Linked DNA regions of Homo sapiens: region 2 is linked to region 1. Evidence: fine-mapped QTL for protein levels in blood plasma. A gene starts in region 1. The other region holds a variant in brackets. All regions are shown on one strand. Distances are between the middles of the regions.

What was found. A credible set is the group of variants that fine-mapping cannot tell apart. PIP is the posterior inclusion probability: the model's chance that the variant is causal. The UK Biobank Pharma Proteomics Project read protein levels with antibody pairs (Olink). The fine-mapping took linkage between variants from a reference panel, not from the people measured, so its PIPs are less certain.
Region 2: its variant is the best candidate, but not a certain one, in a credible set for the plasma level of the RTN4R protein (UK Biobank, PIP 0.71).

What each region holds. Positions count from the first base shown.
Region 1 is chr22:20,265,172-20,280,566 of GRCh38, reverse strand. RTN4R (reticulon 4 receptor) reads left to right here and starts at 12,249. Exons shown (of 2, transcript NM_023004.6): 1 at 12,249-12,496. The coding sequence starts at 12,475. RefSeq lists enhancers at 5,403-5,903, 12,717-13,405 and silencers at 11,986-12,045, 12,096-12,255, 12,346-12,505.
Region 2 is chr22:20,179,985-20,195,379 of GRCh38, reverse strand. No RefSeq gene overlaps it. Among named protein-coding and RNA genes, the nearest start is that of LINC02891, 17 kb to the left of the region's middle. RefSeq lists a cis regulatory region at 6,700-7,403 and an enhancer at 8,197-8,734. The variant C/T (reference allele first, on the strand shown) is at 8,191.

The DNA of each region.
Region 1 (15,395 bases):
GGCTATGGGGCAGGGGGCCCAGCCTCAAGACTGCGGCCTGGCCCTGAGCGTGGGCGCAGCCTGGCTCCCCGACTCTCCCTCCCCATAAATAAAAGATTCCCTTCCTCCTTCCAGCTTGCGCAGCCGCCGCCTGCTCGCCGGCCCGGCCCTTTGTGCCCACGCGTTGCCATGGAGATGGGCGATTCAAAGGCCTGGCACTTCAAGGCTTCCCTCCTCTCCTGGCGGGCCGGGGCGGGGGTAGCCGGGATGGTTGCCCGAGCCCCAGTGGGTGCTGCCTCCTCTCTCCGTCCAGCAAAATGCCAGATCCTGCCAGGGCTAGGGCACCCACCAATTCTCACTCTGGTGTGGGTGGCTGACTCTGGCCCCTACCCTGGAAACAGATGCGCTTTTACGGGACCTTCTTCAAAGTTTGATAGAATAAGGGAAACTGAGGCACAGCTGGTCCCTTGGCCACCGTGGGGAACACAGAGCCAACTCCCTGTCTCATGCACCATTTGCACAGTGTGCTGGCCAGGTTATCAGGCTCCAGGACGTGGCCCTGCGGAGAGGCTGCCCTTCCTCCATCCCAGCATGGACGGCCCAGGGCTGGAAGCCGGGATTTGGGGTGAGCTGCACCGGGATGACTAATCCAGCCACAAAGCCGTCCCCTCCGCACTCTGCCCGCCATGCGGGTTGGAGCTATCTCTGAGTCACCATCGAGACGTTGAGAATGTCGCAGGGTCTTTGAGGCTCTTCTGCTCCCCCCAATCCTGTTCCCCACTCATACTTTTTATCTCCCCACAATCTGCCCTTTGATGATCTCCTAAGACTCATGCAACCAGCAGAATCGACAGCAGCACTTTCTGGTTCAGCCACTGCCTCCCACCTACCCCATTGCGGCAGCCACTTGGTATTTGTTGCCTGCTCACTGTGGCAGCCAGGCAAGTCTGGGACCCCTTAGAGCCTCGGTTTCCTCTCCTGTGTAATGGAAGCAGTTGTCCACTCTTAACAAATGTCCAGAGATGTCTGGGGGCCAGGTCTCTGTGCTGGGCCTGGGAACAAGACACCTGATTTTGGGGGAGATTCTTCCCCCTTGCTCCACCCCATGAACTCTGGTGAGGGTGACCACCACACACCACAGTTACTTCCCGGCCCCAAGTGGCTGGCCCATCAGGGACTTCCCAGGAGTCACAGGTTGGAGGGAAGGAAGCCAGGGAGAGGTGGCAGAGCCGGCTGCACCCCAAGGCTGTCTCCAAGGGGCCCATCCTTGGCCTCCATCCACCCCTCCCTGGCCCGGACCCCTGTCCTGCCTCAGCAGCCCAGCCCACGGCAGCTGTCCCTTCACCGGCTGCAAAGATGGTGGCCCTGGTCCTGGCCGTGGAGCAGGCAAGGCGCGTGGAACATAAAGAAATATGGTTGTGAAGTGGCCAGGCCATGGAGGAAGCTCGGGGGACCTCGATGTCTACATTAAGACCTCCCAGGAGTGGGTTGTCCCTTCTGGAAGGGTGCTGGGGACAGCCGTGTGGCCCTTTTCAGTGGAAGGATCCCACATCCTCAGGCAGTGCCATCACATCCCCCGAGAAGCCCTGAAACCCAGGCATGAGGATGCAGCTGGCCCGGTCCTGGCAGGGAAGGGAGCGCAGCAGCTGGGCTCCGGCTCGCCTACCCACTGATCGCCAGTGTCCTGGGTGAGAAAGCAGGGGGCTTTTGTGCACACATGGGCCTCGGGACTGGGTCAGGGCTCAGGCTCCCCAGACGGGAGAAAGTGCATGCAGGGCCACTGGCTCCCCAGCTGAGGCTGAGGGAGGCGTCCTTGCCTTCCGTGCTCAGAGCCCTGTCTCAGGTGCTTGGCGCTCTTCTCTGCATCTTGGGTTTCCAGCAGGCCTGCCCCGCCCCAGGACTTGTGGGGAGGCTGGGACTGACCGCGATCCCCCAGGAACAAGGCAGATGATTGATAGAACTGGGCCCCGCCTGCTCTCTCAGCCCCCAGAGCCCCCAGAGGTGAGCTCCAGATGTCACCAGGGCTAATTTGGGAGCCCCTGCCCCATAGAGGAAACCCCCTGCACCAGGCAGAGCCCCGCTTGGCCCCCGCTTCAGCCGAGGGCTGCGGCCCACACTGCCACCTCCCCTACCCTGCGGCGGAGCTAGATGATGGCTGTTCTGTCAAGGGGGCCCTCGGCCTAGAGCATCAGCGCCACTCGGCCAGGACTAGTTCAGGTGGTAGTTCGGGGCTTTGACCCCGGCCTGTCTGATCTGCAGGCCGAGCATCCCCCACCACACTGTTTTCTACAGGTTGGAATGGAAAGGAGGCCAGAGACCAGGAGACCCAACCACAACCACGCAGGAGAGGGCTGGTCAGGGCTGAGGCTGCTGCCCCTGACCTGAGAGCAACAGCACCATGCCCCTCCATCTGCCATCTGCACACAGGGTCGCCTCCAGCCCACAGGGCAAGGGGGCCGGGGCTGGGTCCTGAGTGCAGGGGTGTCCTTGGCAGGGTAAGAGTCAGCCTAACTCAGACTCCACTGCCACACTTTGCAGTGAGACTGACAGGTGGAATAAACCCACCAGGCCCCCCAGCACCAGGAAGAGCTCTTCGGAGTGGCCCAGGCCTGGCCATGTCCCTGAGAGAGGGGTACTGCTGGTGCGCCCTGAGCGGGGGGTGGGCTGGGCCCTACTGCTTGGTTCTATCTCAGATTTTTGCTAATAAGCCCGTCTTTTTTCTTTTTTTTTTTTTAATAAACTTTTCAACTTTAGAACAGTTTTATCTTTGCTGAAAAATTGAGAAGACAGTACAGAGAGATCGCATCTACCACACACCAGTTTCACCGTTGTGAGCATCTGGCATTGGTAGGTTAGAGTTGCTGAGCCAATAGCGGCACACTATTATCAGCCATCGTCCATGCAGTGTTCACATTTCCTTCGTCCTTACCGATGTCTTTTTCTCCATACCAGGATCTGATTTTGGTCATTGAAATTGCCAAAAACAAGGGGACACAGGAGTGTGTTTGGCCAGGTGGGCCACCTGCTGCTGCCGCCCCCAGATGTTCATCCCAGCCCCCCACACACTCGGGGGATTTTCAAAGGGTCTCACGTGTTGGGTGCCAGAGACACCCTCCTGGGCCTCGGATTCCTCCTCTGTGATGAAGGCGGGGGCTGCTGGCTCCTCCATACCACGCTCGGCCCCCAGCAGACAGGCAACAGGGGCCTTGTCCCACTGTAGCTGTGGTCAGGTGGTCCAGGGCTAGACGGTCCTACGGGGAGCTGAGGCCCCCACCTCGAGATCTCCCTGCCCAAGACACCAGTGGGGTTGGGGTGGGTCAAAGGCCTGTTCCTCCAGGGCCCATAGGAGGGGCTTCTTAATCTGAGGGTGAGAGGGTTTGGGAGGTGACACCCCAACTCCCACCCCAATTCTCACCCTCCACTTCTCACCCCACAAGCTATCACCATGACTGCCCACCTCCACTTCTCACCCCCACCTCTCATCCCTACCTCTCACCTGCCGCTCTCACCTACCACATCTCACCCCCAATTCACACCCCTACCTCTCACTCACACCTCTCACCTTCCAGTTCTCACTCCATTTCTCCCCTCTCAACCTCTTCCTGCCCTGAGCTCAGCCTCCACTGAAAAGGTGGCCTTTTCCCCAGATAGCTGGGCAGGGGCTGGACCGGACAGATTGCTGGCAGGGGAGGCACACTTGCTGTTCTTTGGTGAGAGTGGCTCTTGCCTCCTATGATCCTGGAGCTCAGGCCTGTCCAGCACCCCTCCTGGAGGCAGCAGGGTGGGTGTGTTCCTGCAGACATGGACAGACCACCTTGGCACTCAGGGACCAGCGACCCAGCCCCTCATCCGGGCAGCCATCCTGGATCACTCCCCGCTGCTCTAGCTGACCGGCATCTTAGCACCTCCCCAGGGAATGTCCCCAGGCCCTGCAAACTCAGTCCTGTCAGCCCCAGCCCGCTCTGGGACCCCTCAGGAATGCTCCTTTCCTCAAGTCCTCTTCCTCCCACGGCCTCCATTCCCCCGGATTCTCTGCTAGGAAGTAGATCTCACCCTGTTTCACCATCAGGGAAACTGAGGCTGGGAAGGTAAAGATACTGCCCAGAGCCATGCCTGTGGGAGGCCTGGGACTTGCTGGTGGCCTGTGAAGGTTGGGCAGGGGGGGACAGCTTGAGTCCGCAGGACCACCAGGACCACATCTGGCAGTGGAGGCCTAGGGTGAGGGACTGGGGCTGAGCAGGGCCTCTGTGCTGCCACTGTTGAATGTGACACGGCTCCTGAGAAGCAAGACCAGAGACAAGTTAAGCAGGCCTCTGCTAACGGGGCGCTAACAAAGACAAGAAGGGTGAGCAGGCATCAGGAGCGCTTGGGGACTCGCGGTGGGATGGCCATGAGAACTCGGCCCACGGCCATGTCAGTGGTGGCAAGGAGAGGATGGATGTCAGCTGGTTTTTATTTTATTTTATATTTATTTTTATTTTTTTTTAATTATTTTTCTAGAGGGTCTTGCTCTGTTGCCCAGGCTGAAGTGCAGTGGCACAATCATGGCTCACTGCAGCCTCGAACTCCTGGGCTAACGTGATCCTCCCGCCTCAGCTCCCAAGTAGCGGAGACTACAGGCGTGCATCGTAACAGCCAGATAATTTTATTTTTTAATTTTTATAGAGACTGGGACTCACTATGTTCCCCAGGCTAGTCCCGAACTTCTAGCCTCAAGGGATTCTCCCCGCTCTGCTGGGATCACAGGTGTGAGTCACTGCACTTAGCCTGTTTTACTTTAAAATATATATATTTCCTGTTTTGAATGGGTATCCTCTCCTTCCACCCCATCCCCAGCGACCTGACACCCCCAGCTGTACCTGCAGGCGGTCCCCCTCCTCACCCCCACTAGACATATCTGTGAGTGCCTCACCCCGGCCCCACCAGACCCGCAGGCCTCTCCCTGCCCTCCAACAGCCAGACCTGTGGGAGCCCCTAAGCAGCCCCCCTAGGGAACCCCCAGCCTGATGCGGCTGCCATCCCTGTGGGTGAGGGGCAGCATCTCACTGCAGCTTAGATCCGCATGTTTCTCACTCTGAGTGAAGGTCAGCAGGGGGTGATGGGAGGTTCCTTTCATGCCTTTGCCCATTTTTCTCTTGGGCTGTTGCTCTTTTTCTTACTGATTTGTATTGAGAACCAAAAACGGCCCTTTGTGAACTGAGTTGCCGATGTTTTTACCCTTTGTTGGTTATCATTTTATGGTGGTTTTTTTCTCTCCATGCATCTGCCTTTTATTTTCACGAGGTTGAATATACCCATCTTTTACTTCATGGCTTCTGGGTTTTGTATAATTCTTAGAGTGACTCAAGATTGGTTTTTTGCCATCCATGCTTTCTTCTAGGAGTTTTATGGTTTCATTTTTACTTTTTAAATCTTAGTTCCACTTGGAACTTGTTTTAGCGTCAAGGAGTGAGGTAGGAATCCAAATGTTTCCTCCATATGTCAATTCCGTTGTCTTAAGGCCAAGTGTTGATTGTATATGTGGGATTATTTGTTGAATATTCCATCTCTCCTCTTGGATTTGACCTGCCTCTTCTCATATTTGCATTTGAGCCTCTTTCTGGACTCTTTCCCATCGTGTGACTGTCCAGGGTCTGTGTTAATTATCATGGTCTTAGAATATAAGGCGTTTCAGGATGCGACATGGCCCATCTCTCTCCGTACGTTCATTCTTTCATGTGAACTTCACAATTGCTCTGGATGGGCCTCCTGATTCATTCAAGGAACAAGCCATCAGGCTTCAGCCAGGCCAGAGAATGGGCCGTGGGTCCCAGCACTGGGCTTTCATCTGGGTTCCATCCGATTGGCCTGTGCCCCAGGGCCTGGCTCCTCGGGACTCAGCCAGTCCTGCCGGTGGAGTGCATAGGCATGACGCTGAGTGCTGGACTCTGTTTCCACGAGAGGCCTTGGGGTGGAGGGGTGTCCCAAGGGAGTGGCCGAGGCAGAGGACCCTCTTTCTGGATGTCCTCACTTGCCCATGGGAAGGGAGGTGGTCCTGGCTGAGCCACAAGGCCCTGCAAGCCCAGGCCCTGCACACATGCACCTTGGTAGAGCCAGCCAGAGAGGCCTGATGACCAGAGCACCTAAGCGGCAAGGGCAGGCAGGAGTGCCCAGGAGGGAGCCAAGCTGTGGCCGCTCTGCTGAGCCATCCGTTCCAGCAGGCAGCAGGCAGCGGACTGAGAATGCTCAGTTCAGAACTCGAGCCTGGGCATGAACCGGAGCCTCCAGAAACCTGCCCCTTAAGCGGGTCGGCTAAGAGTGGCAGCTGGGAGCTGGAGACCCAGGACACAGGCAGCCCCCAGCAGCCCATGTGGCCTCTTCTCAGCCACACCCCGAGGGCCCCAGGCTCTGCTCCCACCATGGCCGGCCTCCTGGGAGCCCCTCGCCTGGCTGGATGGGCCAGTGGGGCGGGGGCATTGAGCAGAGGGTGGGTGGGGCCAGCAGACCCCAGATGTCCGGACACAGACTAGGAGAAGCGCCTCTAAGGCTGGCAGCAAACCCCGGCCAGCCTGGACCGTCAGCAGGAATCCTGGCTAAAAATATCCCAGTCTCAGAGGCCTGCCGGCTGCTGCAGCCTCCTCAGAGCCCCCTCCTCACGCTGGGCACCGCCCCTGTGCCCCTCCACCTCCCTTGCAGGCAATAAGGCCTGCGGACACAGGAGGAAACTTAGGCCCTGTGCCAGTGAGTCCCAGCCCCAGGGCCTGGCCTCCAGGACTGCCCACAGAGGCCCCCATCTCACTGTAAGGCCCCGCCCTGCTCCGCACCCATGAGCCTGGGAAGGGGTCAGGGCAGGCCCCATCACGACTAGCTCAGGCAGGGGCACAGGCTCTGCTGGCCCCACCCTGCACAGCTCCCTGTCCCATGGCTCTCAGAGGCAGAGCCACTGGCTGGGGGGCAGAGCCCCAAGGACTTGGTCTGAGTCACCCTAGCAGAATGTGGGGTGCTAGGTGGGCTCTTCCCAGTCACCCCTGTGGGCTTCAAGTGACCAAATGGCATGGCTATGCCCTTTATCCTGGAATCACTGACTGGGGGACTCAGGCCAAGGCCCGCCTCCCAGGCACTCAGTTTCCCCACCTGTAACCAGTGGGGATATGTGGAATGGGGGTCCAGCAGAGGTATGCAGGGTGTTACAGTCTGCCTCCCAGAGTGTTTGTTGAGTGACTGAGGAAGTGAGCAGATGAAGGCGGCAAGGGAGGCTGTGGAGGGTGGGGCTACTGAGCTCAGAGTCAGGCTGGCCCTTTTGCGTCCTTGACGGAACCCTGTGGTAAGCCCTCAGCCTCTCCATCTGGGAAACGGAACAAACCTGCATGCTGCATGGATTGTGGTGGCCCAGAGTGGGGAACCCAGGGGCCCAGGGAGCTCCTACAAGAGCAAGGCTGGGCACTGGCCAGCCGAAGCATCCCAGGGGCCATCTCACTATGGCCCCAAGATGGGTTTGGCGGTCTACCCTGCCTTCCACTCCCCACCCACTCCTGCTGACAGCTATCACCATGCCTTCCCTGCCTTCCCTGCCCCACTGGGAGCTTGTGGGTGTTTTCAGCGGGTGCCCCTCCCCCCCGACCCGGTTTTGACTGCCCGCTGGGCTCCTGGTGTGAACAGCGGCTCCCAATTTAGCTGTCACTGCCAGGTGGGTGGCTCTAGAAGGATCCACACTCCCTGCAGGGGCGGGGGAGGGGCGTGAAGCCACAGCGGATGCCTTGGGCACAGCCCAGGGACCCCCGCCTTCCGGAGCTCTGCCCCTGCACCAGATTTGGGCCTTCAGGGACCAGAAGCCGCCTACTCCCCAGCCCCCACCAGCCGGCCTCCCCAGAGAGAGGCCACCAACTCGGTTGTGCCCACTGAGAGAAGACCCTGAGCCCATCTGCTGGCAAACACAAGTGGCCCGAGGCTCATCTCAAGGTCCAGGAGCCCTGGGGACTCACCCCTTCCTCTAGGCACCAGGAAGAGTGGCGGACCAGGGTCCAGGTGCCAGCCTGGCATGTCCCACTTGGCCGAGTGTCCTTTCATCTCCGTTCAGGCTCCCATCCTGGAGATGGGCCACAAGGGATCCAGTCCAGGGCTGGGGGACGCAGAGGTAAGGGCCATCACTGTGCAATGCATACGTCCCATTGACGGTCCCCAGCAGCCTCCAGGTGGTGGGAGGTGCGCATGGTCCGTCAGGGGGCCTGCCTAGTGTGGCACAATCCAGGATGCCATTCTGTGGGAGGAGGCCCTCGCTAGTGAAGGGTCAGAGGCATTTGGAGATGGGCAGGCCCAGTGGGATTCTTGGGGCCACTGCCAGGGTTTGGTTGTCGGTCCCTTCCTTGTGCCAGCCCCCTTTGCTGCTGCTGTGGCTTTGATGAATAAGAGATGAGGAAGCAGATTAATTATGGCTTAACATGCACCAAAGTTGGGCAGAGGGACTCCTAGGGATGGGAGTCCTCAGGGGTGCAGAGCTGATAGGGGAAGGCCAGGACACCCTCTGCAGCCCCGGGGATGGGGGATGGTGAGAGGCTTCTGGAGGAGGCGGAGGCTGTGGACAAAGAGAGGGCAGAAAGGGGCTGCCAAGATGTGGGTCCACCTAAGCTCCCCAGACCTCCTTCTCTGGTCTGGAAAATGGGTAGTGGTAGTAGTGTCTACACTGTAGGATTGAATGGGATGACTCACTCAGCAGGCCTGGCACAGAGTCCTCTTAGGCCTTGGGCATGCAGCCGCCCTCCATGGTGAGAGCAGATGGCAGGCCAACACCCCCCAGCTCCCTGGCACTGGGACCACATCCCCAGCCGCCCACTCAGAGTGCAGGGAAGGTCAGTCACATTGACACACTTGGGCAGCAGGCATGTGCTTGCCACATGACCTTCTAGCTTCCTTCTTGGTCTCTCCTTGCATTGGCCTGGAGTGGCCCAGAATGTGTGGAGCAAAGACCCAGTTTCCTTGCTGCCCCATCCCTCCCCAGGAGACACTGAGGGCCTGGATGTCCGTGAGTACCGCACAGGCATGCCAAGGAAAGCCATGGCACGCCTATCTCTCCAGGCAGGAGATGAGTCTTCCCAAGCCCTGGGAAGCAGTGACCTTCCAAGGAGGCTGAACCGTGTCCCTGTCAGCCCAAGACAGGCCACCGCGAAAGTTCCCCTCATCTCAAGCTGGCTTCTATGGGCAGTCCTGGAGTTTTGAGTGAAAACCCTGCATGATCCTCTCAGGGGACAGGCGAGGTGAACAAAGGAGGGATGGTGACCAGCTGACCAGGACCTGAGGCATTAGCGTCTGCCTCGTCCACATGCTGTGCAAGCTCAGCGAGGCCAAGGGACTGGGCTGAGGTCACACAGCTGGGCAGGGCCCTCATGACCGGCATGCTGGTCGTGGAGGCTGAGCCCCACATTTTGGGTGTGGGTGTGGGTGGGAGGTGAGACAGCCCCTGGCCTCACTGTAGAGGGGTGGTGGGCTGGGGAAGCTGGCAAAGAATGTGCCCCACATGGTGGGTGTGAGGTGGGGAACGATTCGGGCAGATGCCCGTGTGGCCCTGCTGACCCAGTCCAGGCAGGGTGTGACAGGTCTGTGTGGCCCTGAGGGCACAGCTGTCTGCAGTCTCCAGCTCACTCCTGATCCCCAGGGCCACGTGTCCAGAAAGCCTGGGAGCTTGCATCAGCTGGGCACAGATGGCCTGTCCTCCCAGCACCCCTGATGGGGCTTCCTAGGAACTGACTGGTGTAGACTCCGGGCAGCAGACGGCCAGGCTCTGCCCACAGGGTCCCTGGCTCCTCCCACAAGGTGACCCGATAGAACTGGTTGTGCCCCTTGACCAGGGGCTCCAGCCCTTGTCAAGCCCTCCCTGCTAGCCCCTCACCAGCCGTCAGCTGCTCCCCTTCTTGCCCGTTGGGCCCTGGGGGGTGATGGCTCCGTGGTCGCCTGCCCAAAGAGTACACCACTCCCCATGCTACCCCTCACCCGGCTACACCCTGAAAAATGTGGCTTACCAAACCCTCCCACATGCGCAGCCTGAGAAGTGGGCTGTGCCTTGCTGGTAGCAGACCCACCGGCTGCCTAGCCCTGCTCAACTCTGCCTCTGCACCCCCATAACTCCCTATCAGCGCTGGCCGACGCCTAACCATCCCAGCTAGCACCCAGGAGTGGGCCCAGCTTCCAGTGGGGAGGGTGCTGGCCAACGTGCTGACCGAGGTGGCGGACACAGGAAACCAGCCCATCCCCCAGCGCTCCCTCTGCAGGCCTCAGCCCTGCTCCCATGCAGAGACCTGTGGGGAGGTGGAGGCCCAGGTCCCAGCGCAGAGCAACCGGGAACAGCCAGGTTGGTGGCTGGAGAGGGTGCTGGTGCCAGAAGCCTCCAGGGCCACCCCTGCTCCCCATTTCACCCCATGCCCATCCCATGCCCCAGAATGGTCACTTCGGCTGCGGCAGGAGGGGTGGGAGGGGCTTTAAACCTATGAGATAGGGTGTGGGGTCACAATCTTCAGCTATAGTGGGCTGCTCTGGGTCACTGGTAATTGAAGAGACGCCTGCGGAGTAAGCAAGCAAGTGTCCTCTCAAGGCCTTTCTGCAAGCACAGAGCAGCCCGAGACTGGAGCCTGGTCCACCCCAGCGCTGTCCTCAGACTGATGGTCAGTGCCACGTGACTCATCTAGGGTCTGATACATCCCTGTGGAGAGAGCTCAGTTCCTAGCCTGGGGGCTGCTGTGTGCAGGGACCCTGGAGAAGAATGCTTGTCTGGGGGTCAGGCCTCAGCCTCCCACTGGCTCTGTGAGCTTCGCCTGAGGTTCCCTATCTGTGCAATGGGTGATGACGTCTTGGTGTGGCTCTGGGAGGACCTGTTGAGCCACCTCAGGGGCTGAGCTGGTGGCACTCGGCAGCCAGCACCCTCTGGGGAGGTGGCAGTGTGTGCACAGCCCACCCCTTCAGGAGGCCAGGGGACAGAGTGGCTGGGGGTGTCTGGGCCCCACCTCACCTTCTGTGTGGCTGGGAATGGCATGCACTCCACAATGCCCTCATAAGCCTAGGCTGGGACAAGGGTGATAGGGATAAAGCAGGCCAAAGTGATGAGGGCCACAGAGCGGCAGCCAGAGGCATGTGGGCAGTGCAGCCTCCACACCAGGCAGAGGGCCCACCCAGCATGGCTCCACCCTGCGAAGCTGCCTGCCACTGGGATCAGATGGGAGCACCAGGGCTCTGGGAGGTCCTCACTTCCTCTGCACAAGGCAGGCAGGTCACCGGCCCTGCGCCCTGCTCATCTCCCTCAGGGCCACCTCCATGGCCAGGGGCAGGCAGAGGGCACAGGGGTGCCCAGTCACCAGGTCTCTCTGCTTCATATCAGTGGACCTGGGCTCTGAGGGGGGCCATCAAGGCATCAGGCTGGCCCACTCCGTCCTTGAGTCAGGGTCCTACAGACTGACACCAGGTGGGCCTGCAAGACCCTCATCTGCATGGTCCTCTCATGCAGGGTGGGCCTGGGGAGGACCCAGCCCGGCTGAGCTGACTCCCAGCACTTCTCCAGGTGCAGGGGCAGCCTGGCAGTTGTCTGAAGACCCCGGGATGCACTTAGGAGCTCATCGGTGAGGCCCGGTAGGTGCCCCGAGCAGAAGATTGAGAAGGGACACCTGCACCCCTGTGTGGTGTGTGCAGGGGCGTCACTGGATTCTCTGGCCCCATGCCTCACACCGCCCGTGGGGGGCTGGCTTGGTAGAGTGGGGGGATACTAAGCAGGTGACCTCGGAGAGCGTCTTCTGGGTTTGGAGCCCCCATTCCGCAGAAGGGAAGAGGTGGGGGACCCCTGCAGGGTTACGGGTAACATCAGGCCTAGGTCCCTTCTCTAGGATGGTGCAGAGAGGGCCACAAAGGCCCAGGAGGGCCCCCAGAACTCTCTTAAGCCCTGAGCCTGTTTCTTACTGAAAAATGGGGGCGATCGTGCTGCAGCAAGGGGCTTCTGTGCAGGGGGCGGGGGATTCATGGGTTTCGTGAGGCCAGGAAGGGAGTGGGTCAGGCAGAGGCCATTCCTAGGCCTCGGGACAAAGCCCTTGCCCGCTTGGGGACCGGGCCAGCCTAGGCCGCCACACCCTCGGGCCCGCGTCCCCGGCCGGCTCCGGCCCGGGCCGCCATCCCCTCCGCCGCCTGCAGGGGCCGCCGCCTCTTCAGGAATGCGCCGCCTTTGTCTGGGACCGCGCGGCGCCGGTGCACCGGGCGGGCTGAGCGCCTCCTGCGGCCCGGCCTGCGCGCCCCGGCCCGCCGCGCCGCCCACGCCCCAACCCCCGCGCCGCCGCCGCCCTCGCCCTGTGCGCCCTGCGCGCCCTGCGCACCCGCGGCCCGAGCCCAGCCAGAGCCGGGCGGAGCGGAGCGCGCCGAGCCTCGTCCCGCGGCCGGGCCGGGGCCGGGCCGTAGCGGCGGCGCCTGGATGCGGACCCGGCCGCGGGGAGACGGGCGCCCGCCCCGAAACGACTTTCAGTCCCCGACGCGCCCCGCCCAACCCCTACGATGAAGAGGGCGTCCGCTGGAGGTGAGTGTCCGCGCTGCACCCGAGCCCGGCCGGCGGCGGGGCGCGGAGGGGGGCGGCTCGCCCCCTCCCCGGAGCCGCAGGGCCCGTCCCGGGCTGCCGAGGCGAGGGAAGCGTAGCCGGGCGGCAGGGAAAGCCACCGCAGTGCCGCGCCAGGCTGGGGCCGCTGGCGCCCCGGCCCCGGGAGGGCGGAGCCGGAGGCGGCAGGAAAAGTTGCCGCTTCCCGGGAAAGTTGACGGCTTCGGCAGGGCCGAGGGTGGCGGTCCGAGGGTCCCCGATGCTGGGCCAAGTCGAGGGCGGGGGCCGTGGGCTGGAAGGGCGGGGCCCGGCCTCGGAGCGCCCCGGCCACCAAGGGGTTAACGAGCGGGTTTTTGCAGAAACGTGGGTACCGAGGGTGGGTGGGGGTGTCGGGCCGCCTCCACCCCAGCCTCACGGTCTGGGCTCAGAACCTCCCGTTTCTCCGAGGTCAGTCCACAGTGGGATGAATGGGGGCGTTGGCGGCAGTAGAGGGCGTGGGGGACAGGGTTGTCCCAGCGCTGCCTCCAGGGCGGGCGGTGAGAGGAGGCAGCAACGCCCGCCATCTGCAGCCCGAGGGACATTGAGAGGCTTGGCTGGGGGAATCAGGGGCGGTGGGGCAATCAGCAACCCCTCCCTAGCAGCCCTCGTGGGACTCCCCCGCCCCACCGGCTGTGAGGTCCCGCGGTGCGGGCAAGGGAGGGTGGGCTCCATGTGAGTTGGGCATGCCCCGCCTGGAGGGTGCTCCCCAGGTGCCCACCCAGGCTGCCCTGCTGATGTCCATGGTGCCGCAGGCTGCACACACGTTTCCTTGCACGTGCACTTGTCTACACGGACTGCACACTTGCACACCTCTGGTGCACATGCAAGCCAACGCCGCCCCAGTGTGCACATGCACAAACACTGGGTGCACACACGGACTCTGAGGGTGCATATCTGTGTCCTCGCCCCCGCCTGCACACCCACGGCCACACATGCATGCACGCGGCATGCCTGCTGTGGTCTCCACGGGTGGCACATGCTGGGGCCCCTTTCGCAATAACCACTCCCGCACCCACATGCTCGTCTGTTGAGTGGGGAGGCCAGGCCCACAGACAGGGGCAAGACATCCTGGGCCCCACCTCTGCCTGCCTGCCTCCGTGTCCTGGGGGTCCCCGCCTCGGGCTTGTGTGCGTGTGTGTAACTTGGTATGCATCTGCACGTGTGTCTGTGCGCGTGATCATGTGTGCCTGCGGGCACATAGGCATGTCTCTTTGCCTCCAGGGTGTGGGTGCCCCTTGTGTGCCTAGACAGGCTGTGGCCTAATCTGGAGCAGAGGCCCTGGAATGTGTGTTGGGGGCTCGTTGAATACCGCAAAGCCCAGGGTGTGAGGGGCAGGGTCTCCCAGCCACTCCCTACCCACCAGGGCTGAGGCAGATAGATGATGGTGGGCTGGAACCTGTCTGGGCAGGGAAGACCCATTTCAGGCCATGAGGTCAACACTGTGACCAACAGGCCAGACCCTGGGCACCCTTGGTGGCCGCTGCAGCTTGGCTGACTGGAGCACGTGACCCAGCGTGACTGCAGAGGCCCCGCCTCCAGTGCCTCAGTTTCTCCATGGTGAGGACCTTCTTGGTGAGGGGTTCTGTGGTGGGCTCCCCTACCTCCGGTGTTGTGTAGGGTGCTGAGCAGATGGATGCCATGCTGCATGATGGGCAAGGGTGGCCCACTAGCACTGTGGCAAGGGCCCTGGGCTGGGGCTTGGATTGGCAGGCCACACCTCCTGCTCCCCTGGCCACCACCAGAGGCTCATCTATAGAGTGGGGACCAGCAGGTTATCCTTGTAGGTTGTGTGAGGGTGAAACATACTAGCAGAGGGGCAGCTGAAGCAGTGGGGCTGGCCAGTCTCTTTTTCTAAGCCTCAGTCTTCCCATCTATAAAGGGGGTACTGTTCCCTGTTCTTCTCTACTGAGGTGAGGAGGAAGTGAGCTCCCATGCCGGGGGTGGGAATGGGTGGCCATCAGCACCTAGACGCCACCTGGCAGAGGGGCACGTGCAGGGCCTGCCGTGGCAGAACCGTGACCTGGATTTGGGTCCTGGCTCAGCCACCTGCTGGCGGTGTGACCTTGGGTGTGACAGGTCGCCTCTCTGCCTCAGTCTTCCTCACCTGCACCATGGGCCAGTGGTCAGGGATTATCGGGGCACTTCCAGGCTGAGGCTGGGCGGAATTGGCCCGGCTTTCCCTGTGGAGTTCTGACTCTGGTGCTTCTGCCTCAGAATGCCCACAACACCTCCCCACACCCCCACTCAGCAGAGTCCTCCTGGGACCTTTGCACTGCCAGCTGGCCCCTCACCCCATCCATGTGCAGAAGGGACAATAAAAGCCCCTAGTCAGGCAACTCGGGCCACAGGTGAGTGGAGAGGGGACAGGGCAGGGATGCTGCCCAGCTTGGGAGACCCTCCCATAGTACCTTCACTCCCTCCCTGCCCTCCCCCTGTTCCTCACCTGGGGGTCTGTGGAACCCCTGAGCCTCAGTTTCCCCGTGCCAGGGTCCTTCTGCTGGGACTGGCAGAAACGTAGGTTTGCATGGAGTGAGAAGCAGGGGAGAGGCTGAGGGAGGGCCTGGCCCAGCACGTCTCTGAAAGCCAGAGGGCTTGTGGAGGGTCCATGGAGGACACCCCTACAGGGGCTGGGGCCCTGGAAGGTGGGGGAAGGTCCTGCTGTCCTGGGAGGCTGGGAACTGGCCCACAGCCTGTGGAGGGGCCAGGGTTTGTTTGCTGTTGCTGTGAGTGACAGGCAGGCTGTGAGGGCCAGGGTGTGTGGGACCGTGCTCTCCCCCTCCCTCTGCCCAGGAACAGTGCAGCCTTGTAGCATTGCCCTCTCCTCGTCCCTGCCCCAGCCTTGAAT
Region 2 (15,395 bases), 85 kb after region 1:
CAGGTGCCTAACCAAGCATCCAACCTAAAAGCCTCCCCAACCCAGGGCCACTCTACCTGGCTGGGACACCCTTGTGGGGTGTCTCTGTCGGGGTCACCACGTGACCTGGCTCCTGGGGCTCTCCGGTTTTTCAATGCCCTCAGTGAGTGGGTGTCAGTTTGTAGTTAGAATGAATGTGTCACATGCCCACAACGAGTGGGTGAAGGGGAAGCCTGGGAGGCCATACAGGGCCTGGCCAGGGCCACCCCACCCTAGGCCCACAGACAGCAGAGAAAGGGCCATCCTGGGGGTCCCCACCCAGCCTGGAATGAACAGGGAAGCAGCTGCTCCCAGGGGAGGGCCTGCAGGGGGAGGGGGGTCCTGCCAGGAGCTGAGGGCTTCTGGGGCGGTGCACCAGCCCAGGGCCCCACCCACCCTCCTTCCTGGGGTCCATGACAGAAGAGGGAGGAATCTACAGTGTTGACCTGGGGTCTGCAAGGAGATACCGGCATTTCCAAGCTGTGGGGCCCCCTGCCAGGCCACACAGATGGGCTGTGGGCAGCATCAGGCTGTGGTGAGCCCACAAGGATGCCGGGTGCCCATGTGGGGCCAGGAAGTCTCGGAACAGGTGAGGGAGGGGCCTGGGCAGGCTGCTGGGAGATGGCAGCACCCCCACCTGACCAGGGGCTGGGGTGGGGCAGGCTGTGGCTCTAATCTCAGTCCTGCTGTGTGTGCAACAAGGAGACATCCCCTCACTGATTTTTACAGACGAGGAAACCGAGGCTCAGAGAGGTAAAAACCCTTGCCTGGCGTGGACCTGGCTCACAGACCCACATGCTGAGGACCCAGCCAGGCCAGGAGCTCTCAGAGGTCCCGTTTCCTACCCGTGAGACGCTTGTCCACAAGCAGCCATAGCCCTAGAAAGGGAAGGCGGGACCCGGGAAAGGCAGGGCAGAGGGGCGGCTGGTGGACCCAGGGCCGACTTTGCGGGCCAGAGGCTGCCTGACCTACCACCTCCTCCAATAGAGGCACCAACCCCATGTCCAGGGGGATGGGTTGAGGGATACCAAGGTGGGGGTGGGGGAGGCCAAGAGCCTTGCCCAAGCTCCCCAGCCCGGAAGCTGCAGGCAGGACACGAGCCCAGGACATAGCAGAAGACAGCTGTCCCAGCAAGTACTGGGCACCTCCTGGGTGCAGTGCCCAGCAGGCCAGGGGCGGGTGCTTGCTGCCCATGGAGCCTGGCAAGAAGGTGCACACCCAGCGCTGGGGTTTCAGAAGGTCATGAGATGGTGGTGGGAGCCCCTCCTGGCTGGGAGCCTGAGATCCAAGGGACGTGGTAGGACCCAGAGATCAAGAATGCTACATGGATGGGGAAACAGGCCCTGGACCAGCACCTTGAGAGAAGGGTGGGGCTGTCCTGGCCCTCAGGCTGCCCGGCCTGCAGGGCTGTGGGCTCCCACGGGGTGAGCTGCATCCAGAGGCCCGTGAACCTGTGCCCAGGCAGGCCCAGCGCCCATTCTCTCCACCTGCACACGCATTCCCCAGCTGGTTTTTTGGCTAGTTCATTCGCTCACTGACCCCTCAACTATTATTTATGAGTCTCTCGGGTGGTAAATAAAGTCAGGGGAATGTGGCAGGAGCCAGGGTTGGGGGTCATGTCCAGGCCCTGCTTCCCTTTTGCAGGGGAGGGTGCTGAGGGATGACGGGTGCCCCCCGAGGCCAGGTCCCTGAGAACCCACTGTTCTGACCCCCAACGTGCTGCCGAGTCCAGGTCGCCAGGTGAGGGCCGCATGGGACGTGTCTAAGGTCGAGAGCTCTGTTCTCCTGCCTGCCTGTCCTGTCGTAATCACTGCCTGGGGACCCAACACCACACTGCTCCTCGAGGGCCAGCCTCCCTGTTCTGTGAGCATTGATTTCTGTGTTTCCAACAGAGACCGGAATTAGTAGCTGGCATTTGTTTGGGCAGAAACAGCATCAATATTGTCTCTGGGGTGTCCCGGGCCTGTTCCTGCCTGCAAGCCTGGAACAGGCCCCAAGCCCGACTCCTGGCTCAGCCCACCAGCCCACCAAGGAGGAGGACACAGAAGGCAGAGTGACCTGCCTGAGCCACCCGGTGTCTGGGCAAAGCCATTCGCATGGCACGGGAGCTCCTCCTGCCTGAGGCTGCTGCCTGAAAGCCCCCTTAGCACCTCGTTTCTGAGGCCTGAGAGCAGGAGCTCCCTCCACTCTTAGAAAGGACACTTCCTCCTGCCCAGTGCTGGGCAGGCAGTGGCTGCAATGTTCCCTGACTAGGGCTGGCCAAATGCATGGGTCTGAATCCATCAACTGAGCTGGGCCCGCCACATGCCTCCTCCCACAGAGGCCTGACACAGCCCCAGATGGGACAGCCTTTACCGATCCACTGTGTATATGCCTTGAGGGGGAGGCGCTGACCAGCCCAAGGCCCCCAGCCATAAGTGGTGTCCAGGCCTGGTCTCTTGTACCCTGGTCCTGGTAGTGGTCTGACTTTGGTTTTCTTCATTCCTGCCTCTAATCCTCGTGTGAGCAGCCCGGAGGCCAGCATGGAGGAGGCGAGCTGAAGGAGCAACAGCAGGGCCCTGAGAAGGGCAGGTCCTCCTCCTGAGGCTGGGGTGGCCCCTCAGGACCATCAGCGGGGCTCCTGACTTTCCCACAGACCCTGCTGCCTGCTGCCCTGGTGGGGTTGGGGCATTTTCAGGAACAGAGACATGTGCAGCAAAGTGCTTGCAGGAGCCCTGCCTCTGAGGTCCCCGGGGTCCGCCCTCCCCCAGCTAAGGGCTGATAGCATCGGGGCCAGGTTGGGGGGATGAGCATGGGGTGTGGAAGATGAGGGAGCTCAGGATGCATGTGGGCTCTGACCTCCCCTCCCCCTGCACCTCCAGCAAGCCCCTTCAATCCAACCAAGGCTCCCCATCTGGGTAAGGCCGTCCTGGGGTTTAAGCAAAAGGTGGGCACACAGCAGGTGCTCACAGGCCTCGGCAGAGGATGGGGTGTCTGGGGAGGGGAGAGGAAGGCTGCTCTGGGGACCAGCACAGGAGACCAGCCATGGCAGCCCAGGAACACCTGCCGCCCAGTGTCCATCTGAAGGCTGGTCACCAGGAAGGCCAGTCTTGACCCAGATCTGTCACCTCCAAAGCATCTGTGGGGTATGAAACATGGCCTAGCTGAGAGGCAGGATAGGGCTTCTCATGCCCAACCCTGCCCCTGGGAAACGTGATAGGTTCCTGCCAGCGCTCAGCCCCTCAGAGGATGGCTCAGCTCACAGATACACAGCAAGGCCCCCTGATCCCCCACAGCCACCAGAAAAGCCAGCACTTCCGGGACCCCCATTCCCTGACTCCCACCCAGGATGGCCGCAGCCTGCTTCACAAACGCCAGGCCCTTGCACACAGTAGGTGCTCAAGGGCTGCGTGGCCTCATGCCCCCTAACAGCCCCCTCCAGGACCCAGGAAGGAAGAGGGGGCCCAAGGGTTGAGGGTGGGTCTCCAGGAGCTCTGTGCAGTAAGATTCCAGAGCCCAGCGTGGCCTCCAGCAGAGCACCAGGGAGGGGTCCAGGGGTGTGCCTGCCCAGGAGGCTACGTGCAGGCTAGGCCCTGTGACAGCGATCAGAGGGGAAGGTCACAGCAGCTTCGTGCTCTGTATTGCAATGCATGCCCTGTTAATCCTCATGCAGGGCTCACACTAGCCCCTATGTGCCCCCATGGGTGGCCTTCCCCTCCTGTGACGCTGACCCCCAACCCCACCTGCCCGCCTGCAGCATCTCCAAGGCCTCCGGAGCAGAATTGAGAATTACAGCAGCTTGTCGGGCATCACTCCCAGCCAGGGTTGGGACCCGATCCATCCCGCAGCAGCATCTGTGACCTTCTAGAAAGGTCTCTGCCTGCTGGGGGTGGGCAAGCAGGTGGGGTCCAAGGCCGGCGCCCTGAGATCCACTGCCAGGAATTGACCTCATTTAGCTGGCAATACCTGCTTGAGCTTGGTGTTTAAGGAGCTGTCCTGGAGTCATCTATGCCCATGAAATCCCAGACACACCTGCACAGCCAGCTCCTGGGCTTCATCCAGCACAGGAAAAAGCAGCCGAGTGAGTGACGGAGCCTCAGGCTCCCAGTAAAAGCTGTGGACAGAGCCCAAGCTGTGCTGTCCTCACAACTCAGGGCAGAAAATCTGGAGGAGGCAGTGAGGACCATTCCCCTGAAACAGGAAAAGTTCCTTTGTCCCCTTCGCAGGGCATGCAATGGGGGTGTGGCTCACTTCTTCGGTGCCCTGCTGCTCAAACCTCTGGGGGAGCATACAGACGGGCAAGTTGTGGGGTGTTGACCCCACGGCAGTGTCTAGGGGTGGATGTTGACAGCTCGTGAAGCCCCACTGGGCGTGTTACAGGGTGCTTTTAGTTTAGCCATCTATAGGCAGCTTGTGTTAACCAGCTCAACTAGACCCCTGCCTTATCACAAGGACAGAGGGCTTTCTGGATCCTGGGGTTCTTGCCTTGTGTAAATCTGACCACACGTGGGCTTGGAGAATGAGTGCAAGGTTTTATTGAATGGAAGTAGCTCTCAGCAGATGGGGGAGCCAGAAGGGAGATGATTTTCCCCTGGGCGGCCTGAGCTCTCCTACGACTGCCCCAGCCAAACTCCACATCATTCTGCCGCAGCCGGCTTCACAAATGCCAGGCCTGCCAGTGCCTGTCTGTGGATTCCGCTTGACGTCCAGCCACTTGTGCGTTCTTCCACTGATCCACTCCTCTCAATGTCCAGCCGCTAGAGTATCTGCCTACTAGGGTCTCAGGGGTTTTTATAGGCACAAGATGGAGCATGGCAGGCCCGGGTAGTCTTGGGAAATGCCACAACATGTGGGCAGGAAATGCCTGTCCTCACCTAGGTCCATGGGGGTGGAACCCTAGCCAGGGACCATGCCTTCCTCTACCCAGCACTTTCCTTCCCCTCTTTTGAGATGGAGACTTGCCCTGTTGCCCAGGCTGGAGTGCAATGGCCTGATCTCGGCTCACTGCAACTTCTGCCTCCCAGGTTCAAGCAATTCTCCTGCCTCAGCCTCCCAAGTAGCTGGGATTACAGGAGTCCACCACCACGCCCGGCTAATTTTCATATTTTTATTAGAGACAGGGTTTCACCATGTTGGCCAGGCTGGTCTCGAACTCCTGACGTCAGGTGATCCGCCCGCCTCAGGCTCCCAAAGTGCTGGGATTGCAGGCGTGAGCCACCGCGCCCAGCCCCCTTCCTCTCTTTCGTATCATTTAAAGGGACCACACTGTTCCCTTTCAGCACTTCTGAAACACCCCCAGGTTGGATTCTGGGGGCTTCTGTCTTCCTTAGCATGTGGGCGTTTCACACCTTTTGTGTCAATAGCCAGTACTGTCTTTGCCGTGGGGTGGTGGGAGAACAGGAAAACACATGCTTTTTTGTGTTTTGTTTTTGTTTTTTGTTTGTTTTTTAGAGAAATAGTCTTGCTCTGTCACCCATGGTGTAACCATACCTCACTGTGGCCTCAAACTCCTGGACTTAAACAATCCTGCCTCAGCCTCCCAAGTAGCTGGGACTATAGGTGCAGACCACAATACCTGGCTAAGTTTTTTTGTTTTGTTTGTTTTTGGTAGAGATGGGGGTCTCGCTATGTTGTCCAGGCTGGTTTTGAACTCCTGGCCTCAAGTGATCCTCCTGCCTCGGCCTCCCAAACCAGTGCTGGGATTATAGGTGTGAGCCATTGGGCCTGGCCCCAATACATGCCTTTTCTGTGGGACCATAGTAGGTGGGTATATCTATGGGGTACATGAGATACGGGGTACATGAGATATGTTGATACAGGCATACAATGGTTAGTGTCACATCAGGGGAAATGGGGTGTCCATTATCTCAAGCATTCATCATTTCTTTGTGTTACAAACACCCCAATTATACTCTTTTAGTTTTCTGTCTGTTTGTTTTTTGTTGTTTTTTTGAGATGGAGTCTTGCTCTGTCGCCCAGACTGGAGTGCAGTGGCTCCATCTTGGCTCACTGCAAGCTCTATCTCCCAGGTTCACACCATTCTCCTGCCTCAGCCTCTGGAGTAGCTGGGACTACAGGTGCCTGCCACCAAGCCTAGCTAATTTTTTTTTTTTTTTTTTTTTTTTTTTTTTTTTTTTTTAGTAGAGACAGGGTTTCACTGTGTTAGCCAGGTTGGTCTCGTTCTCATGACCTCATGATCCGCCCACCTCGGCCTCCCAAAGCGCTGGGATTACAGGCGTGAGCCACTGTGCCCAGCCTCTTTTAGTTATTTTTAAATGCACAATAAATTATCATTGACTGTAGTCCCAATACGTGCTTTTTTGTTTGTTTGTTTGTTTGTTTGTTTGAGACAGAGTCTCACTTTGTCGCCCAGGCTGGAGTGCAATGGCGCAGTCTCGGCTCACTGCAACCTCCACCTCCCAGGTTCAAGCGATTCTCCTGCCTCAACCTCCCAAGTAGCTGGACTACAGGTGGGAGGCACCAGGCCCAGCTAATTTTTGTATTTTTAGTAAAGACGGGGTTTCTTCCTATTGGCCAGGCTGGTCTCAAATTCCTGAACTCAAATGATCTGCCTGCCTCGGCCTCCCAAAATGCTGGGATTACAGGTGTGAGCCACCGCGCCCAGCCCCAACACATGCTTTTTAATGGTCAAGACCAGTAGGCCCATGGGGCCAGAAGCAGGCATGCCCCTGGCATGGCCCAGGCTGGCCCAGGTGTGGAGGGAGGCGGTGGCGGTAGCTTCACTCTCAAGTCAGCAGTAGGAGTCATGCCCCCAGATGGCAGGAAGAGGGTGGGCACCTGGGGATCCCTTCAGGGGGGTGGACAAGCCTGGGGTGGCTCCAGCTGTCACCTGCTCTCTGTGAGGCCTGGGCAGGGGACCCAAGGGCCCTCCTCAGTTTCCTCGTCTGCACGGTGGAGGCAGTGGGCCTGCTCCCAGGCTGAGTGATATCAGGGGCTGTGGGCTCTGGGCTCCCATCCCACTTTCTGGGAGCATCCCCTGGGCTCTGACAGCCCCTGCCCAGTTGCTGAGGCTGCCCACACCACAGGGCCAATGCTGTTCCCATGGAGCAGCAGAGTGTCCCGAGTTCCCACTGCTTCCCTGACACTCTGACTCCCATCCCTCCTGGGCCTGCTGCCAGCCCCATGCCAAACCCAGGGTGGAGGTGACAGCTGGGCACATGCTGGACACCAGTGTCCTCAGCCTGTGGCTGTCCTCACCACAGGGTGCCTAGGTCAGGATTCAAACCCAGGCCTGAGCTGCCCCTGTCTGTGCAAGGCTCTATGCCCCCTCCTTCCAGCCCATCTCAAGTGTCCGACCCCAGAGTGCTCGTGCCGGACACTGGCCGTGTGGAAGACACCTCCAGCCACAGGGAGGCCCTGCAGCCAGGGCCTGGGGTCCTTGCTCACCAGGGTGCGCACCACTCACCTGGAAAGGAGACAGGGCCACCTCCACCCAGCCCCAACACACGGGCCTCAGGGGCAGGGACCGTGAGATGGAAGGAGGGCCTGGCGCCCTGGGGCATCAGTCGACTCAACATCCAAACACCTGCCCTGGGCAGGTGAAGAAGCAAAGAGGTCAGGGCCTGGCTCCACCCAGCCATGCAGCCTCAGGCAAGAGGCAACATCCTGGGCCTCAGTTTACCCTCTGGGAAGAGGGCGTGTGTGAGGAGCTGGCTCAATATAGCAGGTCCTTACCACTGCTCATGTGGGTCTGTGGATGGAAGGCCCCCAGCTGCATTGGGTTTGGCTGTAGAGTCCTGGGACACAGACACCACCCAGAGTGGCCTCAGACAGGAGTCCCACTTTTCCACCAGCCCCTTGCTGGTGAAGGACACTTCAGACTTTCGCCCCATTCCCTGTCACTGTTATCATGAATAAGTATGCTGGGAGGTTAACAGGTAAATAAAAAGCATAGCTGGACACAGTGTGAGGCCACAGTGGCCGGAGGACTATGGAACCTCAGGGCAGGACAGCATCTGGGCAGCCAATGCCAGCCTTGGCAGACCCCATGGCACCTGCCCAGAGGCTACGTGCAGGCGTGGCCCTGCAAGGGGGGCGGTCAGAGGCAAAGGTCACAGCAGCTTCGTGCTCTTTACTGCAATGCATCCCCTCTGTTAATCCTCACGTGGGGCTCAGACAAGCCTCTGTGTGCCCTTCCTTCTCCTGTGACAGGTGGCCTTCCTCCTCCTGTGA[C/T]GCTGTCCCCCAGCCCCTGCTGTGTGCAGACCCCATGGCATGTGGGCAGCCAACGCCAGTGTTGGCCACCAGACAGCAGCCCAGGGAGCTCAGCAGGGCCAGGCAGTAACAGAGGCCAGGGCGGGCTGGGAGTTTCCCAGGGAGGGTCCCCACACCCCCTGCTCCCCTTTCCTTCCCACGTTGTCCCTTCCCACTTGCCCCCAGCCCACACACCGGCCAAGGGCCAGCTCCACCTGCCCACCTGCTCCACTATTGTTTACTCGAGGGCTTTCTTCGAATGGGCTTTTTTAACTTAAGTGATTATATTTTGAAAGGAAGTCTTACAGCACCACTGGAAATGGAAAATAAGCATCGCAGGTGGCAAGCAGAAGGTATTGGAGCAAACAGAATAAAAGCAGAGTGCCATGAGATCCCACACAGCTAGGCCTGCGGGAGGCGCAAGCCCCTGCTCCACTCAGCCCCAGGAGGGGATTACGTCCCAGTCACACCGCGGAGGACAGGGCTCTGCCTCCCAGCCCCACTCACCAGGAGAGCGCCCCCACCTGATGGTCAGAAAGCTCTTCCTTTAATCAATGCAGCTGATACTGGGCAACATCTGTAAGCACTGCCTAGTGGGGACATGAAATGACTGAATCTTGGCCCCAGTTCAGAGACAGTGTCTGGGGACAGAGACTCCTACTTTCCACAGTTTCCCCAGGCCCACCCTCAAGTCCCTCCCTGCACAGGAGCGTGAGCAGAGGAGACAGACAGCAGCCCTAGCCTGGTGATATCCACACCTAGGCTACCTGGCCATCTCTTAGACTCACCTACACCCGCCATGCTAAAGGCACTGAGAAGTCCTGCAGAGGATACATCAGCCTTGTTTAACTCAGTATTTCCCCAGGACTCCTTCTCCCCAGCTCTACCCTGGGTGTGGAGGGCCCTCTGTGAAAGACAGACAACAGGCAGCCTCCTGGTCAGACCTCATCCATCCACACTGGTGAGCACACTAACAAATCCAACTTCGCTCAAACAGCAAAATGATTCCCACACAAATGACATCTGGCAGTTCTTGTTGTGTCCAGCAAAGCCATGGGACAGGCAGGACTGCCCAGGGCTCCATATATCCAGGCCAGGAGTGGCAGCTTCACCCAGCCCACCCCAACCCCCAACACCAGCCCGAGCAGGAGAGGTAGCCCCCACTCCACGCTCAGCCCTTTACAGTATATTCCCCCCGCAGACCTTATCAGTGCCTTGGCTGATAACTCTCTATCCAGACATCTCAAACTCAGCCATAAAAGGAAAGTGAACATGGCTCTCTCCTGCATGTGGCAAGTGCTCGTGCTCCAAAGAGGCTCTTGGACAGAACAAAGATGCTCACCCCTCCCCGCTGGTCCTTGCTGGTGCTGCTGAGAGAGACGCACCCACCCCTCAGGGATTCCTGGGGAGGGCACCATGTGACTACAGCCCAGCACCCGGCATAGGGACTTTAGAAGGGTCTCTGTCGCCTCCCAGTTCAACCTACCCAGGAGGGTCCCGTGACCCGTGCATGGTGCAGCTCCCAGGAAGCTGCCCAGGGAGGCCCAGTCCATAACTCTGCAGCTGCAGAGCCCATGCCCAGCTACCTTCTGGGAGGGGCAGCATCTGCAGTGGGGACTTCAGGATGGGGCAGAGCTTTGGGGAGGGAGATGCCAGGTGGAGGGAAGAGCAGAGAGTGTTTGGGAACCTGGCTCCCATAATCCCAGGGCTTTGGGAGGCCAAGAAGGGAGGATTGCCTGAGGCCAGGAGTTTGAGACCAGCCTGAGGAACAAAGTGAGACCGCCATCTCTACAAAAAATAATTTTAAAAAAATTATCTGAGCATGGTGGCACACACCTGTTGTCCCAGCTACTCGGAGGCTTAAGCAAGAGGATCGCTTGAGCCCAGGAGTTGGAGGCTGCAGTGAGCTCTGATTGTGTCACTGCACTCCAGCCTGGGTGACAGAGCGAGACCCTGTCTTTTTAAAAGGTGGGGAGGGGTAGGGGCTAAACAGAACAGTGGTCGCCAGAGCCTTGGAGAGGGAGGGGTGGCCGCTGTGACCACTGCTCAGCCTGAGTGGCCCCAGTATGCCTCTTCCCCTTGGCCTTCAGCCCACAAGGCAGCATCCTCACCTGCCTCACAGAAGGGGGTTGGTCCCCAGGTCACTCTGCCAAGAGGGGCCCCACGGAGGCCCAGGGCGCTGCAAGGAGCTGCTTCCTGGGTGTCAGGCTCCATCCTTGGGCAGGTGTGGTCTGAGCCAACGCCCTAGGCCGGGCCACGGCGGGGACCCTGTCCAGGTGGCCGGGAGGGTACAGGAATCCCTCAGCCCCAAGTCCATGGCTGGGGAGAAATCCTCGGGTGGGGGCAGCAGCGTCAGGGCTGACCATCCACCCCCCAGCCATGAGCCCGGGGGCTCTGCTACCTGGGAGTCTCTGCTAATTGGCCCCAGCGCCTCCCAGGCTGAACGTTGCTCAAACATGTCAACCTTGCTGCTTGATTGACAACCTGTCACTGTTTCGTGAGGTTTCTGAGGTGTTCCCGGGACTCAGCAACCTTGAAAGTTGGATAAAGAACTCCAGGAAACTGGCAAGTCAGTCAGCGGCCAGAAGTGAGGCCCTTTCCCCGCATGGGGGCTGTGAGGGACTGTGGGGTTCATGGGGGCCTGTGCGGTGCATGGGGGCCTGTGGGGTAGGTACATAGGGGACTGTGGGGTACATGGGGGCCTGTGGGGTACATAGGGGACTGTGGGGTGCACGGGGGCCTGTGGGGTTCATGGGGGCCTGTGGGGTGCATGTGGGACTGTGGGGTGCACAGGGGCCTGTGGGGTTCATGGGAGCCTGTGGGGTGCATGTGGGACTGTGGGGTGCATGGGGGCCTGTGGGGTACATAAGGGCCTGTGGGATGCATGGGGGCTTGTGGGGTACATAGGGGACTGTGGGGTGCATCGGGGACTATAGGGTACATGGGAGCTTGTGGGGTACATAGGGGACTATGTGGTTCATGGGGGACTGTGGGGTGCATGAGAGTCTGTAGGGTTCATGGAGGACTCTGGAGTTCACGGGGTACTGTGGGGTTCATGGAGGACTGTGGGGTTCTTTTGAACATGCTTCTTTTGTAATGAGAAGAAACAACAAAAAGTTAAGGCTGGGTCAGGCAGGAGGGGCCCCTGAACCCCTGGGACCCCAAAGCCGTATGGGGAAAGTGACAGGGTGGGTAGGCCCAGCCCCACCATAGGCCTGGAGCCCTGACACAGGGCAAGAGACTGCGCGGTGCCCTGGCCCTTCCCACCCTGGCCTCTGTGTCTGCTGGGGGCCCTGCTCCGTGCCCAACCCAAGGCATCTGGCCCCGAAGGATGGGGGCATGTGTTCTGCCGGGAGCCATCTTTCTCCACTGTGCCCAGGTGCCCCAGGCAGGAAGCCCGCTGGGGGCTTGAAATAGCCACCTGTCCCTACCTCACTAGCCCTGAGCCGTCTTGGGTCCTGGGGACTTCCCAGAGGTCCTACACAGGGGGGTCAGTCTCCAGCTCTGGACCTTGGGCCGTGCCTGGCTGCCAGGGACGCAGTCAGCTAGACTCTGAACTGGAGTCACTGCCCTGGGGGATCCTCCAGTCTGAGTTTGAGCAGAGCTGGGACCAGATTGGGAGGTGAGTGGACGTCGCCCGAGACTCTTCAGGCACTGCCAGCCCGGTGGGCGCTCGTCTGCAGACCAGGCTTATGGAAGGGGTTAATGTGCCCAGGGCCACACAGGGCAGACGGGGGGCACAGCCATGTCCTTCACAGTGGCCAGACCTGAGGAAGCCAAAATGGCTCGGCGGTCACTGGGCCAGCCTGACCGCCACACACAAGGCAGATGCCCTCAGCCCTGTGTGGCAGATGGGTAAACTGAGGTACAGATGGGACCAGGGTGCACAGGAAGCATCATGAGCCAGGGCTGAGCCAGGTCAGCGTGGGTACAGCAGCCATGTGTTTCCATGATCTCATGTGGCCAAAGAGCCTGGAAAGGCAGGTCCCACACTAAGTTGGAGACATGAGGCCAGGGAAAGTGGACATTGTCACACGGGCTGGTGACTCCGTGAAGCAAGGCCCAGAGGAATGAGAGATGGAGACAAGGAGCAGAGAGAAAGAGGCCAGGAAAGGAAGCCAGTGGGAGAGGTGTGGGGCCAGGGGAGGCCAGGAGGAGGAGCAGGGCTCAGGACGAGACCTGGGGAGGAAAAGCCACTCGCTGTCCACAGGGCCATGCCATCTGTGAGGCCCACCCCATCCACCCCAGCCCAGGGCCCTCCCACCCCTGCCTCCCCTTGTCCTCCAGCCCAGTGTGGCCCGAGGAGCCAACATCCCACTCAGAGCAGAGGAGCCTCCTTCTGTGGCCATGCTTCTCTGTGTGGCAGCCGGCAGTGGACCCTCGCCTCTTCAGGGAGCACGGATAGAGAAGGGCATGACAGCCCATGCAATAATGACCACTGGATTAGCCACTGCTCCTGTCATTAAACTGGCACCATCATGAGACCTATTTCAGAGCCACAGGTTGAGAAGGGCCCTTCCTCATCGAGGGCCAAGGCCTGGGGATGGCAGTCACGTGGCCCTTGAAGGTGTCCGTGTCAGGGGAGCAGCTGGGAGCAAACCCGCTGTGCAGGAGCCCAGAGGAGGCCACAGAGCTCTGAGCTTTGCTGCGTGGGCAGGAGGCGCCTCCCAGGGCTCAGCTGCAAGGGCTGGTGCTCACACTGGGGACAAGAAAGACAGACCAGGTCCAGAGTCCCAGGCCTCTCCCAATGCCCCAGAACCAGGCCCCTCCGTCCCACCCCCTGGGGCCCTAGGTTGGCGTCACGTGCCCTCTGCCCCATGCCTGTGCCCACCCTGGGATGGTGTCTCCCCTCTCTCAGGTCTACCTCCCAGCACAGACCCTCTCAGAGGCCTCTTTGGGCTCCCCCAGGGACCCCACGGCACTCTTGTCACGGCCCAGTGTGCCCATCTCGGGGCTCCATCCAGGCCCAGCCAGCCGACAGCCGGAGTCCATCCATCACACTGCCCACCACCCTTCCGGCCTGATACGGTTAGCTCTCGGGGAGCATGGTGGCTGCTGCCAGCAAGGGGCCCCCAGGGAAATCAGCCGACATCAATAAACCTCCCTCCGACACCCCACGGCCCCACGTGCACCATCACTCTTCCGCATCGACCGGCCCACCAAGGCCGCAGCTGCGGTGGCAAGGAGAGGCCCCTTGTCCATCAGCCTCGGATCCCCTGCCGCCCAGGAGCCCTCAGCCAGCTATCCCTGCTCAGCAGCATCTCCTGGCTCCCGGCCTGGCTCCATCACCGGGGCCCCAGCCCGTGTCCAGCCTCTTGGGGTGGGAGCGGGGGTGGGGTGCTGGGCAGTGCCACCACCCATCAGCCTGACATTTCCAAACAGCCTGGCACCGCCTCCTTCGCGGGCAGGACCAGCACTGTCAGCAGCTCCCCAGGCTCCAAATGCCAGCGTTGCCACCCAAGCTTGGGAGGGAGAAGCCCAGAGGCCCTGCCGGGCATCAGAGAGCCCAAGGTGGGCATGGGCAGTGGGGGTGCAGGGGCCCTGGGGCTGCTCTGCCAGCCTGACCTGGAGAGAGCGAACTCCTGGCTGAGAGCCCAAGGCGCCACCCCAGGCCTCCCCCAGCCTCCCCCATGGCAGGTGTCCCACTGCAGCTGGGGACAGGGATGGAAACCGTGCAGCCCTGGGCAGGCTGGGCCAGCCGGGCCAGCCGGGGCCCTCTCCCTGCCCTGCCCTGCCCCTCCCCACTGCTGTGCAGCTCTGCCACTGCTGGACTCTGGCCCCACGGCGACCCACGTGCCCTCACAATCCAAGCCATGTTGGCCCCAGGAGGTCTTCCCACTCGCAATGCTGAGCCCCAGCTGGAAAGTCACCCCCAGCACAGGCACTGGGGACAGACACTGGTCTGCCCTGTATGTTCAGTTGTTGTTTCTGTTTAAAGGGTGAAGAGGCTGGGTGCAGTGGCTCACACCTGTAATCCCAGCACTTTGGGAGGCCAAGGTGGGAGGATCGCTTGAGCACAGGAATTTGAGACCAGCCTGGGCAACATAGAGAGAACCCCTCTCTACAAAAAAAAAATTCACCGGGTGTGGCGGCACATGCCTGTAGTCCCAGCTATTCAGAAGGCTGAGGCAGGAGGATTCCTTGAGTCCAGGAGTTTGAGGCAGCAGTGAGCTGGAAGTGAGGCGCTGGAGCCACATCCCGCAGGTAATATGCCCAGAGGGTCTCGCCCACCAGTGCTGCATTTGGGGTGGGACAGCAATGAGCAAGTGGCATCGTGTGAATGACTCATGGGTGTCAGAGCCATGCACGGCCCACTGGGTTTCACTTCATGCTTGATTTTCAAGCACTGCACCCAGCCCGTTCACACTTTAAACAGAAATAACTGAGCTACAGGGCTGGCCACTGTCTTTCCCTAGAATACACTTAGGACAGTACTGGTCTATATATAGGGCTCAGAAAACGTGGGGCTTTTCCTATTCAATTTGAAAGATTTCAATGCCACATGTGGAAGGTTCTGCCCACGATGACACTGAGGCGTAGTGACTCGCCCCAAGTTCCAGAGGACACGACCCTGGGAGGACCCGACCCTGACCTAGGAGTTCAGTTTCACTCTGACCCGGGTGGGCCACCACACCTTCAGGCCCTGCGGTCACCCAGACACACTGGGCCCGGCCACCGCCCTCTATCTGACTACTGCCCCTGGTGGTCACCCTGGCAGCAGCCAGGCCGGGCTCGGGGGCACTTGGGGCACTGCTGCAGGGCCAGGCTGGGTGGGCCAGGGTCTCTCTAGGGTGGGGTCTCAGAGCCTTGGCAGAGCCAAGGGCCTGAGGACCATGCCTGGCCCATGAGGGCCAGGGCCTTAGGCAGAAGGCCAGGGCAGGGCGTGACTGGAAAGCCCCCTTTTAGCCGCCCGTGAGCAGGGAGCCGCAGGCCGGCCTCAGGGGTCCACATGTGACTGCACAGACTCTGGATGAGGGAGTGTGCCCGGGGGTGGCAGGGCAGGCCTGTAGCAGGGTCGCGGGGCGAGACTGCCATAGGGAGGGTCCAGGGACGTGGGATCCCAGCAGGGCAGGAGCAGAGCGTCGAATTGCAGGGGCAGAGGGGGTCCCGGAGACCGAGGTACAGTGTCTGCATTGGCGGGGGCTGCACTGCACCAACGGGCAGCAGGTCTGGGCGTGAGATGCCCC